2 separate regions of the Homo sapiens genome follow, and region 1 is reported to be linked to region 2. Evidence: microRNA targets listed by miRTarBase, many of them from high-throughput screens and not tested one by one. Region 2 holds a microRNA gene; the other region holds the end of a gene's coding sequence.

Region 1 (3,414 bases), not on the chromosome of region 2:
ACTTTTTATATTATTTATCAGCTTCTAAACTACACTCTTGAATTGAACCATTTAATTTGTGAATTGGACAAGTTTCTACTCCTTAAAAATAATAATCTATAAATTGTTCTGACATACTAAAATAAATTCAAAATGACACACAAATATTAAGTCTAATTTATAGTTTTATTTCATTAAGTTTATTCAAAATTATTATAGGCTTTTTCTTCTAGCTGCTTTTATTTTATTTATTTATTTATTTATTTTTGAAGACAGAGTCTTGCTCTGTGGCCCAGGCTGGAGTGCAGTGGCGCGATCTCGCCTCACTGCAAGCTCCGCCTTCCAGGTTCACGCCATTCTCCCACCTCAGCTTCCCGAGTAGCCGGGACTACAGACGCCCGCCACCATGCCCGACTAATTTTTTTTTGTATTTTTGGTAGAGACAGGGTTTCACTGTGTTAGCCAGGATGGTCTCGATCTCCTGACCTCGTGATCCGCCCACCTCAGCCTCCCAAAGTGCTGGGATTACAGGCGTGAGCCACCGCGCCCGGCTCTTCTAGCTGCTGTTAAACAGCTTTTAAAACAATGTTGGGATTTTATTTGACTGTTTAAAAACAGTGAAACAGGCTGCTTAAATAAAACTTATTCTGAAAACATCTATGTGCTTTATAAATTGTTCTGTTCTTTGCTTTACTTTAAACTTCTAACTATTGTTTTTCATAGACTGCCATCAGTGAGAATTATCAGACAATGTCGGACACTACTTTCAAAGCCTTACGTCGACAGTTGCCAGTTACACGCACTAAGATTGATTGGAACAAGATCCTTAGCTACAAGATTGGCAAAGAGATGCAGAATGCATAAGATGAACATTGCATGACCGGATCATTTTAGTGTCTTTGCGTTAAAAAATCATTGCAAAAGTATTCTGAACTGTCAAGCTGCCCAGTCAGATGGGCTGTTGCCATTTAAAATCACTGTAATTAATTAGTTTGATTAGAGCACAAAGCTTAGCTAATCAACCATTATTTTTCATTTTGTTTGTTCTAAGAGGATTGAAAATCAGTTTAGTTTAAATGTCTTTCTGTTAGGCCTTTCTTTCTTACAATGAAGAGATGATTCTTCTAGTTTATGGTTAAAAGTTTTTGAAGTGTCTCAAAAATATTTTACTAACTGTAACCCTAAAATTGATGTCTTTTGGTTTATGAAATCAGTAATTTTTGATATTTCCCCAGTTCTTTTTAATGGGGTCAATAATGGACATTCTAGTTTAAGGTGGTTGATGGATTTAGCCATATATGCTGCTAAAGAAATTGTCTACCTTTTCTTCCTCACCTGTTCCATTTATGTAAAGTTGAGATTAGAGGGAAAGCATTTTCTATATCAATTGTGTTTAAACCTTTCAAGAAGGTTATTTAGCTAGCTTAGTGTTGAACTAAATTTTTTTTAAACAAGGCAAGGTCTAATGCTGTTTTGAGATTCTGAAATTAATGAAAATACTTATTTCAGAAATGCATTTAATGCTTTTTTTCTTGTGACAGTTACGCAAATCAGCTTGAATTCCATATGTCCCTGAGTTATTTTTATCATAAAGCCACAAATGTATTATAACAAGGCAAATTGTAATATATATAATCCTGAACTCATGACCATGTCTCGGTTTATTTTTTTTTTCTTGGATTGAAAAGTACTGAAATTCAATGTGACATTAAAATGCAAATTTTCCTATTTATTTGAGTAGAAAATCACTTACCAGTGAGCATATATATTTTAAAATACTTTCTTTGGATATTGTAATTCTTAACTGGTTGTAAATTAGAAAAGCTGGGATTACATATGGTGTGCGGTTACAGTCTAAATTTTTTCATCCTCCTATGCATCATAAGCATGTTTGTAATATTTTCAAAAATAGTTCTACTGATGCTACAGGAATTTCAAGCCTGTGGTGAATGTTAGTATTTACCATAGGGAGTGAAGTGGAGTTATGGTTTCATTCAATAGAGTATTGCTGATTATACTTGAGTGGAATCCTTTCCTCACGTACTCCCACAGACGTCTGGGCCTGGAAATTTTTTTTTTATTTTATTTTATTGTTTTTTTTTTTAGAAAAACACCACTTTTATTATGTACAATAAAATATTTCATTAGCTTGAATTGTATAGATTTTTAAAAATTCAATGAAAGCATGTTGTTTAATTTCTTTTTAAAATCACTGTTGGGCTTTGAAAGCATTGAGAATATAATATGAAATTATGACATTTTGTCTAAATCATCTTTTCTTTAGTTTTAAAATACAAGTTTTGGCACATTGGGATTCCTAAAGAAAATGAATTGGTAACATTAATTATCTGTTCCTTTTTAAAATATATATATTTGAAAGTTTGATGATGGTGAACTAAATACTAGATCTAATTGACAAGCTTAGTTGTATCAGTTAGGCCATCATGAGTTTCTATCCCATGAAAGTCATCAATTTCCTATCTCTGTTCTAGTCTGGAATGCATTACTGAAAATGTATGCAACTGTTTTTAAGGTGATTTGCTTGTGAGACGGAAGATTTATCAAAAATAATTTAGAACAGGCTGGGCGCGGTGGCTCACATCTGTAATCCCAGCACTTTGGGAGGCCGAGGCGGGTGGATCACGGGGTCAGGAGATTGAGACCACCCTGACTAACACAGTGAAACCCTGTCTCTACTAAAAATACAAAAAATTAGCCGGGTGTGGTGACAGGCGCTTGTAGTCCCAGCTACTCGGGAGGCTGAGGCAGGAGAATGGCGTGAACCCGGGAGGCGGAGCTCGCAGTGAGCCGAGATCGCGCCACTGCACTCCAGCCTGGGTGACAGAGCAAGACTCTGTCTCAAAAAATAATAATAATAATAATAATAATATAATTTAGAACAGTCTGAAATAATGATGGCACAGAATAGTCTTTTATAGTATAAGAATGGCATTTATTAGGCAGGGCACAGTGGCTCACACCTGTAATCCCAGCACTTTGGGAGGCCGAGGCGGGTGGATCACGAGGTCAGGAGTTCGAGACCAGCCTGACCAACATGCTGAAACCCCGTCTCTACTAAAAACAAAAAAAAATTAGCCGGGGATGGTGATGCGCGCCTGTAATCCCAACTACTCAGGAGGCTGAGACAGGAGAATCATTTGAACCCGGGAGGTGGAGGTTGCAGTGAGCAGAGATCGAGCCACTGTACTCCAGCCTGGGTGACACAGGGAGCCTCTGTCTCAAAATAATAATAATAATAAAAGAATGGCATTTATTAAAGTGAAAGAAGAATGGAAACCCAGAGTATCCTATAGCTCAGGGATGTAATTTTAGTAGGAGACATTATGGCTGCTTTGCTGAGTAGGCTGAAGTGTGGTGGCAAAGGCATAATCAGGGAGAACAGCTAGGAGACTACTGCAGTAATCTAGTTGAGAG
Region 2 (3,414 bases):
GTGCCATGTCCTCCCTCCCATCTACCCACTCCTTCAGACCCAGCACAGTGCGCCTGGCACACAGCAGGCACTTAATCAGTATTTATGGAGTGATGAAATCCATATCATCGTCCACTTCTTCTCAGTGGGACTTTCGGCCTCGAAGGGCTTCCTGGAGGAGTTGCCAGTTTTGGGGATGAGCCACTGCTTCGAGCATTCATGTCAACCCCCGACCATGAAGACGAGACTCCTGGCCTGTGTGTGCTTGTCGCATGATGCATGTGCTGTGCTCAACCTCCCTTCTGGTTCCACCCAGCTCAAGGCCTTGGAGGGCTTTCTGGATGTGTCCTGAGCCTTTGTCCTCGGCATCTCTGTGTGGTACTTGGAGAGATAGTAGACCGTATAGCGTACGCTTTATCTGTGACGTATGTAACACGGTCCACTAACCCTCAGTATCAAATCCATCCCCGAGGCTCCTGGAAACAACGCTGTCTTCGGGGAGGAACGGTTGGACCCACCACCACTTCTCCATGACACCCGAAGAGATGATTTTCTGTATGGCATGTGTTTTTCTGCATGATGCAAAATGGCATAATCTCGCTCCTCTTAAATCAAGTTCTGCCTTGGGAAATCGCGCCATCCCTGGGGAGGAGACCTTGATTCTTCCCGGAATCAGTGCCATTCCATGGTGCTCAATGACGTGGTTGACTACGCTACGCTTATTCAGTAGACACCGTGACCTGCTTCTTCTCAGCGTCAAATGCAGCCTAGAAGAAGCGCCCTCAGGCAACTTCGTGGACATGAGCCTTCTTCCAGCCACCACCACCACCATCGTGCGGTACTTGAAGAAATGGTTTACCGTCCCACATACATTTTGAATATGTATGTGGGATGGTAAACCGCTTCTTGGTATCCAGCCCAGCCATCCAAACCTCCCTGGAGAAAGCCTGGAGTTAGAGGAGAGCCACGGGTCTCGGCATCCGCCATGCCATGGCACTTGGTGGAATGGTAGACTCTTAGATGTGTGCTTTCTCTGTCAATGCTTGTGATGCGGTCTTCTCCTCAGTGCCAAACACAGCCTCCAGTGACTTCCTCAGGACAAGGATGACCTCCAGGAAGGTGTCCTACTGCCCACGTTGGCACATCCCTCTGGAGTAATTGAAGAAACGGTGGCTGGTGCCGCAAATGTTCATGAACGAGGGATGTGAAACAGGTCACCTCTCATCCTCAGAGCCCTCCTCAGATGACTTCAGGACAGTACGCCCATGTAGGAGCAGATATGGGTCCAGGAGATGATGCCACTCCAGGTACTTGAAGACGCACTGACTCGTTTTTGTCTTTGCTGATGCGTGTACAGTCTATCTTTTTTCCATCTCAAGTCTAGCCATCTCGGGGGAAGATGTCCCAGCTCTGGACTCAGCACTGATCCTCATGAAGAGCTGCTCGACCCCATCGTGTATGTTTACAGAGGAAGTGCCTCCATGGCCCACTTCTTCCCTATCTCCATCCCAGAACCCTTGCTTGGAGAACTTGCTGAAGAAGCTGCCAGCCTCAGGGACAGAGCACTGGTTCTGGCCTCTTCACTGACCTCACGGTACCTGAAAAGGGTTCAGCCACACTGCATGTCTTTTCCCCATGACGTATGTAACATGGTCTACTTCTTTTGAAGTATCCCATTCAGCCTGGAAAGTCTCCAGGGAGGTTATGTTAAGCTTAGGAGACAAAGCACCAGTTCTGGTACAAGTACTGCCTCGGGGTACTTAGTAGAAGTTGGCCATGCTTCATATGTTTTACTTACAACGCATGTTACTTCGTCCACCTTCCTATAACAGCGTGCACCTCGGGGGGCTTTCTGTAGGCAGGAACGAGTGTCAGTCATAGCACTAGTTCCAGCATCATCTCCATTCTTGAGGGGCTCCTTTGTGCTGCGTCCACTGCATCTGCGGCAGACATTGCATGGTGGCCTCTTCTCAATACTACATCAGGCCTCAGAGGGCTTCCTGGAGGTGATGCTAGTGAGAGGAAAGAGACACCGGCTCTGACCTCAGCCCTCTCCAAGGTACCTGAAAAGATGGTTGACCATAGAACATGCGCTATCTCTGTGTCGTATGTAATATGGTCCACATCTTCTCAATATCAAATTCAGTCATAGAGGGCTTCCCAGAGAGAGGCAAAGTCACCTTCGTGGGAGACACACTGATCTGGCTTCAGCGCCATTCCACAGTACTTGGAGAGATGGTAGAGCATAAAGCATATGCATTGTTGAATGACAGATGTAGCATGGTCCACTCATTCTCAGTATCAGCCAGCCCTGGGGCTTCCCGGAGGCCATGCCGACTTGAGAGCCAGGCCTGAGTGGTAGCCAGGGTGCAGTGCAGGTCACCGGGTGGTTGGCTGCAGACCCAGTCCTTTATTTATTACATTGGCCATTTGGTCCACCAGCCAAGAACTCAGTACCGGTCCCACCCTTACAGGGCATCCTGGAGGTGGTAGTGGCATTGGATGTGGGTTTGTGGTCATTGCCACATTGCCGGTGGCTGGTAGTTCATGATGCGCATTGTGAGGCTTTCTGGAGGTGATAGCAGGTGAAAGGAAGAGAGCCAGGGGTCAGCGTCACTTCCTGGTATTTGAAGATGCGGTTGACCATGGTGTGTACGCTTTATTTGTGACGTAGGACACATGGTCTACTTCTTCTCAATATCACATCTCGCCTTGGAAGACTTCCAGGAGGTGATATCAGCTTTGCGGAAGAGCCACTGTCCTGGTGTCAGTACGGCTGCTGCTTGGTACTTGGAGAGAGGTGGTCCGTGGCGCGTTCGCTTTATTTATGGCGCACATTACACGGTCGACCTCTTTGCAGTATCTAATCCCGCCTTGCAAGCTTTCCTGGAGCTAACATCAACTGCGGGGGTGGGGGCCACTAGGTCTGCGCTCAGTGTGACCCAGCGGGGTTTGTGATGTGTTTGTCTTGTGTGTGACGATAACTCACGTGTGGCAGCCTTCTTCTCAGCACACTGCTCTGGCTTGGCAGCAGGGTTAACTTGCGGACAAGGAGCGTGGTGTCAGCACGTGCCTGGATACATGAGATGGTTGACCAGAGAGCACACGCTTTATTTGTGCCGTTTGTGACCTGGTCCACTAACCCTCAGTATCTAATGCCCCCTTGGAGAACTTCCTGGAAGAGGTGTCAACTTTTTGGGAAAGAGACAGTAAACTGGGGCCAGCTGCACTCTGTTAGACTCTGAAGAGAGCATCTGCGAGGCGTTTGCGACATGTATGCCAAATGTGGCTGAGTTGGACTGATTTTCACTCCGATCTCTTTCCTTGGAGGGCTTCCTAGATGTGGAGGCATCCAAGTTCAAGGGAAGGGGCATGCTGTCTATACCATCCCAAAGTCCTCCAGTGATCAGCTGACCTGAGTGTATGCACTTTAAT

The links. Region 2 holds the annotated microRNA hsa-miR-380-3p (UAUGUAAUAUGGUCCACAUCUU, at 2,087-2,108, shown strand). A microRNA usually pairs through its seed, bases 2 to 8, with sites in the 3' UTR of a target mRNA and lowers its output. Matches are read on the target gene's strand: a 7mer-m8 pairs with bases 2 to 8, a 7mer-A1 pairs with bases 2 to 7 and ends in A, and an 8mer does both.
Region 1: the mRNA of CAPZA2 is a reported target of hsa-miR-380-3p. Seed matches in the 3' UTR shown: 8mer at 1,809-1,816.

Annotation. Positions count from the first base shown.
Region 1 is chr7:116,917,025-116,920,438 of GRCh38, forward strand. CAPZA2 (capping actin protein of muscle Z-line subunit alpha 2) reads left to right here. Exons shown (of 10, transcript NM_006136.3): 10 at 703-3,414. The coding sequence ends at 843. Among named protein-coding and RNA genes, the nearest start is that of ST7, 35 kb to the right of the region's middle. RefSeq lists a silencer at 1,206-1,920.
Region 2 is chr14:101,022,970-101,026,383 of GRCh38, forward strand. It overlaps MIR380 (microRNA 380), which reads left to right and starts at 2,048; the gene lies at 2,048-2,108. LOC124903407 (mucin-2-like) reads left to right here. Exons shown (of 5, transcript XM_047432049.1): 5 at 1-3,414. It overlaps MIR411 (microRNA 411), which reads left to right and starts at 356; the gene lies at 356-451. MIR299 (microRNA 299) reads left to right here and starts at 825; the gene lies at 825-887. It also overlaps MIR1197, MIR323A and MIR758.